Regions from separate parts of the Homo sapiens genome. Here region 2 is linked to region 1. A link means that fine-mapping ties the variant in region 1 to the expression of a gene that starts in the linked region. Tissue or cell type: whole blood. Region 1 holds a variant in brackets; the other region holds the start of a gene. All regions are shown on one strand. Distances are from middle to middle.

What was found. PIP is the estimated chance that this variant, and not a neighbour inherited with it, causes the effect.
Region 2: it holds the start of CTSK, and the variant in region 1 is fine-mapped to the expression of CTSK in whole blood (INTERVAL, PIP 0.97).

What each region holds. Positions count from the first base shown.
Region 1 is chr1:150,882,347-150,890,515 of GRCh38, forward strand. CTXND2 (cortexin domain containing 2) reads left to right here and starts at 4,790. Exons shown (of 2, transcript NM_001384189.2): 1 at 4,790-4,967. It also overlaps a transcript of LOC107985204 not described here. RefSeq lists enhancers at 1,912-2,056, 3,677-3,821 and cis regulatory regions at 1,984, 3,749. The variant G/C (reference allele first, on the strand shown) is at 4,218.
Region 2 is chr1:150,805,857-150,810,930 of GRCh38, forward strand. It overlaps CTSK (cathepsin K), which reads right to left and starts at 2,404. Exons shown (of 8, transcript NM_000396.4): 1 at 2,358-2,404; 2 at 830-950; 3 at 246-368; 4 at 5-160. The coding sequence starts at 949. ARNT (aryl hydrocarbon receptor nuclear translocator) reads right to left here. Exons shown (of 22, transcript NM_001668.4): 22 at 3,857-5,074.

The sequences.
Region 1 (8,169 bases):
TAATAGAAAATTACAGTTTTTTTCTGTTAACTCTTATGGTAAACTGGTTTTTTTAATTATTTAGAATGGTAGTTTTTAAATTGTTTTTTGTTTTTGTTTGTTTTTTAAGACCAGTCAAGTGAAGGAACAAAGAAATCTGTAACTGATTGGGATCAATTAGTTGTAAACACCAAGGCACTCAGACCAGCCTCCAAAGTTTTATTAAGTGTCTCTGGGTATGGTTGCCAGATTTAGCAAATAAAAATAAAGCTAAGCCAGTTTGATCTGAATGCTGGATAAACAACAAATAATTTTTTTTTTTAAATGGAGTTTTGCTTTTTTTGCCCAGACTGGAGTGCAATGGCATGATCTTGGCTCACTGCAACCTCCGCCTCCCTGGTTCAAGCGATTCTCCTGCCTCAGCCACCCGAGTAGCTGGGATTACAGGCACCCGCCACCACGCCCAACTAATTATTGTATTTTTAGTAGAGACGGGGTTTCACAGAGGCTGGTCTCAAACTCCTGACCTCAGGTGATCCACCCACCTCGGCCTCCCAAAGTGCTGGGATTACAGGCGTGAGCCACGACGCCCAGCCTACGAGCACATCTAAGGAATGGAAACCAGATTGCAAGTGGGTGAGAAGTGAGTAGAAACTAAGTAGACACAGTTAGTTAGCACAGATTATTTTTTCAAGAAACATGACAAAGAAGAGAAAAATAATCAAATGGTAGCTGCGGTAGGGGTTAGGCTAGGGGTGGAAATAGTAAAATATTTCTATAGACTGAGCTTGTGGAAAGGAGCAAACTAAAAATGCAAGAAACATCCAGGTGTGGTGGCTCATGCCTATAATCCCAGCACTTTGGGAGGCCAAGGTGGGTGAATCACCTGTGGTCAGGAGTTCGAAACTAGCCTGGCCAACATGGCAAAACCTCATCTCTACTAAAAATACAAAAACTAGCTAGGCGTGGTGTTACACACCTGTAATCCCGCCTACTCGGGAAGCTGAGGCATGAGAATCACTTGAGCCTGGGAGCTGGAAGTTGCAGTGAGCCCAGATCGCACCACTGCACTCCAGCCTGAGTGACAGAGTAAGACTCTGTCTCAAAAAACAAAAAAATAAAAAAATGCAAGAAATATATATGCCTGAGAAAACAAGACTGGTTCTAGGGGAGAGAAGGAGACAGGGTTAGGGCAGCATGTGAAAGTGTTCTCAGAAAACCAAGATACCCTTTTTCTAAAAATGTGTAGACATTTTGAAGTGGAGGAAAGGGAACTCATGTGTGATGACTTTGAGTCTCAAAGAAAAGTAACAGGTGAAACTTCTGCTGGGAATAAGAGGTAGAAATGAGGGTGGGTGTAGCTGCACAGCTGTAAGCAATTGGTTGGGAAGTCAACTAGGTATGAACAAAACGACTGTGAATAATCTGCCACAGGAGTAGAAAAAGGAAACAAAAAAAGATCACCAAATGCTCTGGGGAGCTAGACAAAGTTAGAAAGCATAAATTTTCATGAAACTATGGAGCATTGTAATTTCTGTCAATACTCAGAAACCTGAGGAAAGAAAGTGAACAGTTTACCCACAATTGGAGAGATGATGAACTGATCAGTATCTTGAAGATGGAAGATTCTAGAATTGCAGAAGACCCTAGTTTAAAAATATCTGAAAGGGGATGAGACTGGTCTGGGAAGCAAATGAAGCCAGAAGTTATTGGACTGAGAAGAGAGGTTTAATTCTGGAAGCTGATGTTGATAGCAAATTCAAAAGTGAGAGAGTTGGAGTCAGAGGATAGGCACTGGGAACCACATGTATCACAAAAAAGTTATTAATAAGTAAAAAATGTGTAAAAATGTATCTGTGTGTACTTATGTTTGTAGATAGATATACATTTTCAAATCAATAAGTAAAAGGTTAATAGCTCAGTCAAAAGGGAAAAGGATAGGTAAGGTGAAGATAGGTTTGTATGTATCTGCAAAATATGTAAATCAATAGAGATTCAAATACTGTAGTAATTAGAGAAATGCAATCTTTAAAAAACTGAGATATTGGGCCAGGCGCAGTGGCTCACACCTGTAATCCCAGCACTTTGGGAGGCCGAGGCGGGCAGATCATGAGGTCAGGAGTTCGAGAAAAGCCTGACCAACATGGTGAAACCTCGTCTCTACTAAAAATACAAAAATTAGCCGGGCATGGTGGCGTGCGCCTGTAATCCCAGTTACTCAGGAAGCTGAGGCAGGAGAATCACTTGAACCCCAGAGGCGGAGGTTGCAGTGAGCCGAGATCACACCACTGCACTCCAGGCTGGGCGACAGAGCAAGACGCTGTGTCAAAAAATCAAAAACAAAACAAAACAAAACAAAAAAGATATTGTGGGGTTTTTTTGTTTTTGTTTTTGTTTTTGTTTTTCTTGAGATGGAGTCTCAATTTCTTGTTCTGTTGCCCAGGCTGGAGTGCAGTGGCTCGATCTCAGCTCACCGCAACCTCACCCTCCTGGGTTCAAGCAATTCTCCTTCCTCAGCAACCCAAGTAGCTGGGATTACAGGCGCACACCACCATGTCCGGCTAATTTTTTGTATTTTTAGTAGAGACAGGGTTTCACCATGTTGGTCAGGTTGGTCTCGAACTCCTGACCTCAGGTAATCCACCCGCCTCGGCCTCCCAAAGTGCTAGGATTACAGGCGTTAGCCACCGTTCCCAGCCTAAAAACTGAGATATTGTTTTTAACCAATTAGCTCAACAAATATTTCAGAGACTCTGAGTAACTTACATTGGTGAAGCTATGAAAAAAAAGAAAAGGCACTTTCATGCCTATTTGATTGGAGTGTAAATTACTATAACCGTTTAGTGTGTAATTTGGTAATATCTATTAAAATTCCAAATGTGCATATCCTACAACCTAGCATGTATATTTTTAATATTTGGAGGAATTTATTCCACAAAAACATTTCCACAAGTGCCCAGAGAAATATATATACAAGGCTGTCACTCCAGCCTGGGTGACAGAGTGAGACTCTATCTCAAAAAAAAAAAAAAAAAAAAAAAAAAAAAATATATATATATATATATATATATGTATGTATATATATGTATGTGTATATATATGTATGTATGTATATATGTGTATGTATATATACACACACAAACACGGATATTTATTGCAATGTTGCTATAAGAAATTTGAAACAATACAAAAGCCCACCAACAGAGAAAATGGACTACTTGAGTACTCAGCAGCCATTAAAAAGAATAAAGCAGATTTTTTTTTTTTTTTTTTGATATGGAGTCTGGCTCCGTCGCCCAGGCTGGAGTGCAGTGGCACCATCTCGGCTCACTGCAACCTCTGCCTCCCAAGTAGCTGGGACCACAGGCGCACACCAACATACCTGGCCAATTTTTGTATTTTTAGTAGAGACGGGGTTTTGTAATGTTGGCCAGGCTGGTCTCTAACTCCCGACCTCAAGTGATCCACCTGCCTCAGCCTCCGAAAGTGCTGGGTTTACTGGCGTGAGCCACCATGCCTGGCCCGGTTATGACTTTTTTTTTTTTTTTTTTTTTTTTTTGTGAGATGGAGTCTGGCTCTGTCACCCAGGCGGGAATGCAGTGGCGCGATCTCGGCTCACTGCAAGCTCCGCCTCCCAGGTTCACGCCATTCTCCTGCCTCAGCCTCCCGAGTAGCTGTGACTACAGGTGCTCGCTACCACGCCCAGCTAATTTTTTGTATTTTTAGTAGAGACCGGATCTCACTGTGTTAGCCAGGATGGTCTCGATTTCCTGACCTCGTGATCCGCCTGCCGCAGCCTCCCAAAGTGCTGGGATTACAAGCGTGAGCCACCGCGCCCGGCCTGACTTTTTAAATCAAATGTGTCAAGTAAATTCTTCTGAGGAAAGAGGGGAAAACATTTTAAAGCATCACTAATCCTGTTGACAAGTAGTTCCCAAACTTAAGCATACATCACAATCACCTAGAGAAGCTGGTTAAAACACAAATGCCACAGGAAGTGGTGGTGCATGCCTGTAGTCCCGGCTACTGGGGAGGCTGAGGCAGGAGGATCACTTGAGCCCAGGAGTTTGAGGCTGTAGTGCACTGTGATTCACCTATGAATAGCCACTGCACTCCAGCCTGGGCAACATAGACCCCATCTCTTAAATACACACACACACACACACACACACACACACACACACACAGGCCAACACCCCCAAAATTTCTTATTCATTAGGACCAGGATAAGGGTCCAA[G/C]AGTTTGCATTTCTAGCAAGTCCCTGGGAGATGCTGTAATTCAGAGACCTGTTGCATAGACCAAAAAGTTGGCTACCAATCCATCCTCTACCACTCATGTGATCCTACTTAGAAGTTTTTACCTGAGGCGGGGCGTAGTGGCTCACGCCTGTAATCCCAGCACTTTGGGAGGCTGAGAGGGGTGGAACACAAGGTCAGGAGTTTGAGACCAGCCTGGCCAATATGGTGAAACCCCATCTCTACTAAAAATACAAAAATTAGCTGGGCATGGTGGCATGCACCTGTAGTCCCAGCTACTTGGAGGCTGAGGCAGAAGATCTCTTGAACCCGGGAGGCAGAGGTTGCAGTGAGCCAAGATTGCACCACTGCACTCCAGCCTGGGCAACAGAGCGAGACACCATCTCAAAAAAAAAAAAAGAAAAGAAAGAAATTTTTACCTGAGCTTTTAATGGTGGCTGTCCTGGCCCTGGCAGAGTTGTGGAAATATTCCTCCACTGATCTAGGCTCCAATTTAATCTAGTGGGATCATTTTCTCAGTATGGGAGTGTCTGAAACTTGATCCTGTTTCAATTGAACTATTCATGAAGCTTCTGAGTTCAGCGTGGGAGTGGGGAAGGGAGAGAGCTACCAACCACTCTCCTTTTGTGGGAAGAGGTTGATAAAAACAGAGGCTGCCAAGAGATGTACTTGAGTAGGAGGAGACTGCCCTGGCAACAAGTGAATGTAGCCTTGGATATCCGCTCTCAGAAGGTAGGTAACTACCCACATTGCCTTCCTGGTGGAGTTTTCACTGGGAGAAATTCCAAGAATTCTTCTGAGTTTAATAGCACCTTGCTATGAACTTGGGAAATCGTGGGGAAATGACTGAAGGAAGTAAAGAGCTTTATTATTATTATTATTATTATTATTTTTAGAGGCAGGATCTTGCTATGTTGCCCAGACTGAACTCAAACTCCTGGTCTCAAGCAACCCGTCTGTCTCAGCCCAAGACCTTTTTCGTTAGAGCTTTTTACGAAAAGTTAAACTTTCATCTGAGAAGGGATGTCTTGAGCATAGTCTCTTTTTGAGGAAAGTTGGGGGGACCTCTGATTAGTCCTATTAGCCAGAGAGTGTCTTTGATTTTAAGGATTATAGTAAAAAAAAGCTGCATTATTGTGTTTCTTCACCATCATCTCTCTCTTTGCACTAAACTTATGGCCAGGAGAGAAAAACTGGGTCTTTTTAGTATTTTGGTCTTCTTCAAGAATGGCAGGTCATTGCAGGTGGGAAGAATGAAGTGATCTGGAAAAGGAACACAGAGAAAGGAAAAGGTAATGGATCTTTCTGGAACTGAAAGTGGAATTGATGTTGCCAAGGATTTGTAAATGCCATTATTCTGATTCTTACTTTAGTAGGTCCAAATTTAACATAAACCAATAGCTTCACACCACACCTCCTTTCTCCTACTATAATCCCAAGAAGTGCTGCTACTCATCTCAAACAAAACAAGAACCTTAAAAGCCACTTAAAAAAAATTCTAAGACAGGTATTCCCTTTGGAAAACAGATTTTAGCTCTACCATTTTTGAAAGTGTATTTCTCAAGAAAAGCTATTTTGCATAAGAATTAAATTTGTTGTGACTTTTCCCCCCATTTTGAAAACATTTTACCTAATTTATTTTTTTTTTTTTTGAGACAGTCTCACTCTGCCGCCTAGGCTGGAGTGCAGTGGCGCGATCTTGGCTCAATACAACCTCTGCCTCCCAGGTTCAAGCAATTCTCCTGCCTCAGCCTCCCGAGTAGCTGGGACTACAGGCGTGCACCACCATGCCTGGCTAATTTTTTGTACTTTTTAGTAGAGACAGGGTTTCACCATGTTGGCCAGGCTGGTCTCGAACTCCTGACCGAAGGTGATCCCCCGCGACCTCGGCCTCCCAAAGTGTTGGGATTACAGGGGTGAGCCACTGCACCTGGCCCTAATTTTGTATTTTAAATCTTTTATTCTTTCCTTAAAGAGAGACCCCCATGTTGTATAAATTTTAGGCCATACAAAATCTGGATCACTGCATATGAAAATGAGTAAAAAATATACATGGCATACTTAGAAACAAAACAGCATTTTCCTTTCTAATAAGAATGTATTTTATTATTTATTTATTTATTTATTTAGACAGGGGCTTGCTTTGTCACCCAGGCTGGAGTGCAGTGGTGCGATCATGGCTTACTGCATCCTTGACCTCCTGGGCTCAATCGATCCTCTCACATCAGCCTCCTGAGTAGCTGGGAGGGACTATAGGTGCGTGCCACCACGCCAGGCTAATTTGATTTTGTTTTTGTTTTTTTGTAGAGATGGGGTCTTGCTATGTTGCCCAGACTGGTCTCGAATTCCTGGGCTCAAGCAATCCACCCGCCTCAGCCTCTCAAAGGGCTGGGATTATAGGAATGAATCACCGTGCCTAGCCGATCTCACTCTACTTCTGAATTCCAGTCCCACATTTTAGCCTCCTGAGCATATTGTATCAGTGCATTTAAATTCAGCCTACCTCAGACTGATTTCATCCTAGTACCTTAAAATATCTGCCACTCCTCTGGGTGCAGTGGCTCACGCCTGTAATCCCAGCACTCTGGGAAGCCGAAGCGGGCGGATCACGAGGTCAGGAGATCGAGACCATCCTGGCTAACAGGATGAGACCCCGTCTCTACAAAAACTTAGCCGGGCGTGGCAGCGGGCACCTGTAGTCCCAGCTACTCGGGAGGCTGAGGCAGGAGAATGGCGTGAACCCGGGAGACAGAGCTTGCAGTGAGCCGAGATCGCACCACTGCACTCCAGCCTGGGCGACACAGCAAGACTCTGTCTCAAAAAAAAAAAAAAAAGCAACTCCTAAAATAAATAATTCTATGAATGGCATCATTTTTCTTTCAGCTTTCCAAATTTAAGCCCAGGAGTTTTCTTTATCACTTCCTTCTTCTTCCCACTACATGTCCACTTAATTTCCAGGTCGTCACAAATTCTCTTTCACAATCTCACATCCATTCTTTCCTTTCTGTTACTCACTGTGTTATCCTAGCCCTTGTTTCCCCTTGTTGAGACTGCTAAAACTCCTCTTGTTGTTTTCACCCTATAGTGTGTGTTAGCTCCAATACTTTTTACGCACTCTTGCCAGTTATCTTCCTGAAGTATGGCTTTGATCATTTACCTGCCTGAATTCAACAAGTATGAACTGTTGTATGCACTATGTGCCAGACACCGATAGAGATTCATATTAATTCATTCATGTAGACGTATTAAATACATAAAATATGCCAGCCCTCCCCAGGCACTGAATCCATGCTATGAATGGGACAGACACCTAGAGCTTACATTCTAGTTAGAATCAATGGGATACACAGTAAGATATGGCCCCTGCTCCCAAAATGTTTATCTGCTCAAAACCTTCCATTGCTTCCCGATACCTGAAAGAACAAAATTCAAAGTCCTTGCCCTGACTTTCAAGGTTCAGTATGGTCCTGTCTTAAGCAACAGAAGTATAGTATCTAGATGAATAATCTTGAGTTTGCATGCATCTTGTATTCTGTATTGGGCACCACATTTTAAAAGGAATATAGACACACTAGAAAATCTTCAGTAGAAAAAGGGTAGAGTGGTAGACCACATCCTCTGAGAAACCAATCAAACGTACTTAATAGCTATTTTTAAATTACTGAAACTCTTGTGTATGGAAAAGATATGTGTTGCCTTAAACAGTCCTAAGTAAAAAGTGAAGCTGTACTAAGAAGACAGATTTGGCTCAAGGTAAAAAATTACTGCCTTCCAGAACCTTCTGAAATAGATAGACAGCCAGGAGACAGTCAGTGCCCAGCCCCTGTCACACAAGGAGCTCAAGCAGGGGCTTTACAGGAATGATTAGAAGGTGGTACAAGATGACCTTTAAAGTTTCCTTCCAATGTGAGATTTTATTTATTTATTTATTTAT
Region 2 (5,074 bases), 78 kb before region 1:
GTACCTGATTTTTGACAGGAGTAACATATCCTTTCTTTCGATAGTCGACAGAGTCTGGGGCTCTACCTTCCCATTCTGGGATATAAAGGGTGTCATTACTGCGGGAATGAGACAGGGGTACTTTGAGTCCAGTCATCTTCTGAACCACCTCTTCACTGGTCTAAGACAAAGAAGAAAGAGGCCAGGCATCAGCAGGGAACTAAAGCAAATGGTGCAGGTGGGACAGGAGCTGAAGCTATACTTGCCATGTCCCCCAGGTGGTTCATAGCCAGTTCATATGTATGGACACCAAGAGAAGCCTCAAGGTTATGGATGGAAATATACTTCAGGTTTTTTTCCCAAATTAAACGCCGAGAGATTTCATCCACCTAAACAAAGCATAGTCAGTACTTGTATAGACTGTCTACAGTTACATATGTAATATTGTGAAGGGTTTTAGGAGAATAAAGGAAACTCACAATCATAAAAGTTTACAGTTTAGTTGGGGAACTAACCATGGAATTAAGAGCCTGCAAGAAGAGATAATATGTAAACAAATACAACACAAAGCTCTGGAGAGACAGAAAAATTGCTTATAGATTAACAGCATTAATCTTAGAACTCTTCCCAAAAGAGAAATGTAACACACTTATAAAGCAAAGGAAGGATACAGTTTGACAGAGGATGATTTGAAGCATAGGAATGAAAACCGTATGTTAACATGAGTTAGGGAAGAGGGACTGATTTGCTTGGAATAAAGCATTTGGATTGAAGAAGGGAGTCTGGAAGCTAAGATGAGAGAGCTCAGGTCTCAGCCTTCCTGCCATGCCCCCTCCAGGACCCCAGGCACCTTGTTGTTATATTGCTTCCTGTGGGTCTTCTTCCATAGCTCCCAGTGGGTGTCCAGTATCTCCTCAGGGTACAGAGCAAAGCTCACCACAGGTAGCAGCAGAACCTTGAGCCCCCACATCCTGCAGAAGAATGTAGTTAGGGAAAACTCTTCCATTTGGCAGGGAAACAGAGGAAAACTAGGCTTTATGAGGAAGAGAAAGGTAGACGGAAAAAGGGTGATAAAACAATGATAGTCAGGAGGGGCCTGTGTTTAGATAGGATGCTGGTACATCTGGTTCCAAGGACTTTGATCTAGGGGGATTTAGCCATTTCTCTCTTTCTCTCTCTCTCTCTCTCTCGGGAGATTTAGGCAACACACACTCTCTCTGTTTCTCTCTCTGTCTCTCTCTCTCTCACACACACACACACACACACACACACACACACACACACACACACGTACACAACCAGAAATGGGGGATAGAAACTGGACAATCAGAATGGGCTCAGTGCGTTTCCTCCAGGGTCCCTAGCAGGCTTGGAGACAGACAAATAGCAAGGTGGTAGTGGGGTTCAGAATACACAAAGGAGAGATTTCCGTCTAAGTTTTGCCTCCTGATCATTTCTTCGAGGCGTTCTTCTCTTTCGTGCCTAAATTCTGGTACTTTCCCAGATCTTGTCAGAAGAGGACAAGGGAAAATAGGACAATGTTTCCTGTTTTCTGAGACATTGTATATCTCCTCATTCTCCTTATGCATTTCTTCTTCCTTTTTCTCTCCCTTCCCTCCTTAGGCAGGAAACTGCCCTAATCTTAACCAGATGCTGCGGGCAAGGTTTTTTATTTTTCCCCTAACAACAAAAACCCACTGTGGCTGCCGCAAAGGACAAGAAGCCTCAGATCCAAGGTTTGTTAGAAGAATGTTCAGACTGAAAAGCAATGTTCTATGATGATGAAATTCACAGCTTTTCATAAGTTTACTCTAGTTAGCTTCACTCATTTCTTGCATTGGCTTTCTTAATTACAAATCCTCCATTTTAAGAACAATTTGCAGCCTGCAGCATGACATATGGCTTACACAATTGCTTATAGTCCATTTACATGTAATTTTGCAAACTGGCAAAATGTCCAGTAGGACATTTAAAAACTAGAGTGTTAAGGGCTTTGAGATGTCTCAGTGAACAGGAAGCACTGAGCTACTACCTCCCCATACCACTCTCCTCCTCCTCACTAAGGAGTTAACCGTTTTGATCCTTGTTGGCCAAAGTAGAAAACACTGCAGAAAGGCCACTCTTGAAGGATGGGGAAATGATTCCCTATATACTTTGCTTTTACTAACAATCATGTATGTATATATATAAATCATACAAGGAATTCTACAGATTTCCAGGCAGATTTTATTTAGCCAGGGAATGACCTAAGAAGTGCATCTCTGTTTTCATCTGCAGAGGCTAAAAGTTTATTGTGATCCTCAAGTCACTACATCCCTAATACTCAGAGAATTGACAGGAATGAAAAGCTAAAAGATCTAGGAAGTTGCAAACGTTACCTGCTGATGGAAATCTGTTGTCTGGCTTCGTTTCGGCAGCAAAGTGTGGGCACACCATCAGGGGTGCTAGATTTATTCCATCGGGATTGCGGAAGTCAGCTCCAGTGATCGGCTGGAAAATTTGGGTAAGAGGAGGAGGCGGGGATAGAAATGCTGAGAGAAGGAAGGGTAGGGAGGAGGGAAGGAGGCAGTGGATTTGCAGTGTTTCTGTGTGTATGCAGCATGTGTGCCAGGGTAGGGAATTACTAGCTATTTAGTCTCACAAGACTGTCTTTGGTGGCAAATAACAAGACCTCAATATCTATTGACTCAAATAGGAGCTTACTTTCTCTTTTGGTGAGTAAAAGGAAGGACACAGCCCTAGTCTCTCCCATCCTTCTTCTTCAATATCTTTATTTTAATATTGGGGGATTATATCTTTTCCTACCCCTTTCCTGTTAGGATTTACCTCTCCAACATTGAAACCTATTTTCATATTTGTGTCTGACTCTCACCTCTGGGATGCGGTAATGAACATAAAAGGCTATAAAAGAATAATGTAATGGAAGCCATAGGCTCCAGAATTCTTTGTATTTTTATAAGCTTGTTGGTTGCAAGTTGTCATTACTTCCAGGCAGAATAGTTTTCCCAGCCTAATGTGGTTTTGCTGAAGGAGGATATGCCCAGAAAGTCCAGATGAAACTGTCTTTAAAAGTAACCAAAAACAGCAGTCCTGGTTATTTATGACAGCACTTGAATCAATGCCGTAAGTTCTGATGGACTCACATGTGACTCTGTTGCTAAAACTCTCAGGTGGTGGGATGCCCGATAAACATCATCTGTCTCAATTAAAATCCCCAATCTAGGACAAGTCACATGAGCTTCTCCAAATGCTTCCCCAACATCCAAGCATGTGACAGATCATAAGAATCTAGCTGATTCCTCAAACCACACCCCAAACTTCATTTTCTTCCATAAACAGATGTGGGGAAGGAGAAAAAAAGGCTTCTTGGAATAGAAAGGATAATAAATGGGATCTGTAATAGACTCAGTTTCTAGCTGGATTCCATGCATAAACCCTCAAAAATACAGGCTTATGCCTCTGGATTTTAAGAGCTGCTAACAGGCTAGGCGCAGTGGTTCACGCCTGTAATCCCAGGCCTTTGGGAGGCCAAAGCATGTGGATCACCTAAGGTCAGGAGTTCGAGACTAGCCTGGCCAACATATAGTGAAACCCCATCTCTACTAAAAAAAAAAAACACAAAAATTAGCTGGGCATGGTGGCACACACCTGTAGTGCCAGCTACTTGGGAAGCTGAGGCAGGAGAATTGCTTGAACCCAAGGGGCAGAGGTTGCAGTGAGCCAAGATCGTGCCACTGCACTCCAGCCTGGGTAACAGAGCGAGACTCCATCTCTCACACACACACACACACACACACACAAAAAAAAAAAAAAAAAAAAAAGTTGCTAATGAACCAACATAGTCTCCTAGAGGGAAACCAGGTCCAGACTTGAACAGTTTAAATTTCACTCATTTTAATCCAGAAAAGGACATACTGGGGGAAGGCATCCAGATGTGCCCTAGTGGTTTTCAAGTCCCGACTCTTCCCCTCTCTCCCAAGAACCCAGGCAACGCCCACCCCAAAACCCCCACCTCATGGTCAGAGCATTCCTGCTGATGTTACTCAGAATGTGTCAGGATCAGGAGGACAAGTGAGGGGGGAGGCGTGCAATGTGATCAGAACCCTATGATTTCTGATTCCTGAAATTAAAGACACAATGTGCCTTATGTTTGTATGTCTGGAGCTTAAACTATAGATTCCTCTGGTTGTGGGTGCCTGTTGTTTATGAACTGGAAAGGAATGATAAAGCCGCAATCAAGATCACACAACACAAGAAATTTTACAAAAGGAAAAAATATTTTGTTTGAAAATCTTTGCTACATGTCATTATTTTTGCCACTGTAAAGCTTAGCACAGATGCCAGCAATACAGAAATGGCCAACAAGAAAACAAAACAGTCAAAAATAAAACCCTGAAGGAAAAGCAAAAACAAAACCCCCAGAGCATCTTCTCGCTATCCTCCCCTTCCCCAAAAGCCCTATAATAACTGTACAATATTATAGTCCTGATCACATTTAAAAAGTCGATTATTAAAAAACAAGGGTTCCATTGGAAACTCAACTTTTTGGTTTCGTAAATTGTGATATAAATATATATGTATACTGTAAGTGTGCACATAGAATAAAAAAATAAACTGTCTCCTTTTTTACTCCACTACCTGGCACCAGACTGGAGACATAAGGAAGGGAAACTCAGCAAATGGACATTCCTTTGGCCTCTTCAAGGCCACCCTTGCTCCTCAGTCCCCTATGACTACATTTAATATATCTTCTCATTAATTCAGTCTTGCACTTTAGCTACTGGCCAAAGCCAATTTAAAAAAAAAAAAAAAAAAGCTGGTATCTACGACTGTTACCTGAGGAAGGTAAAGGGTGAGGGTAGTAACCTGTATCCGCATTTATATGGCTATTGTTAATTACCAAGTGACCCTGTTGAGATGGGTGTCCAGGCCCCATCTATCATACGGAATTATGATACTTGCACTCTAAAGCAAAACCCAATCTCAAGATTGGAGGGAGCAAAGAGGAAAAACCTCTTAGGGCCAGAGAGACTTAAATCTCAGTTGCTTGCTAAACTGGGTATTTTGAGTATGGGATGAAAGAGGCTACTTTGCA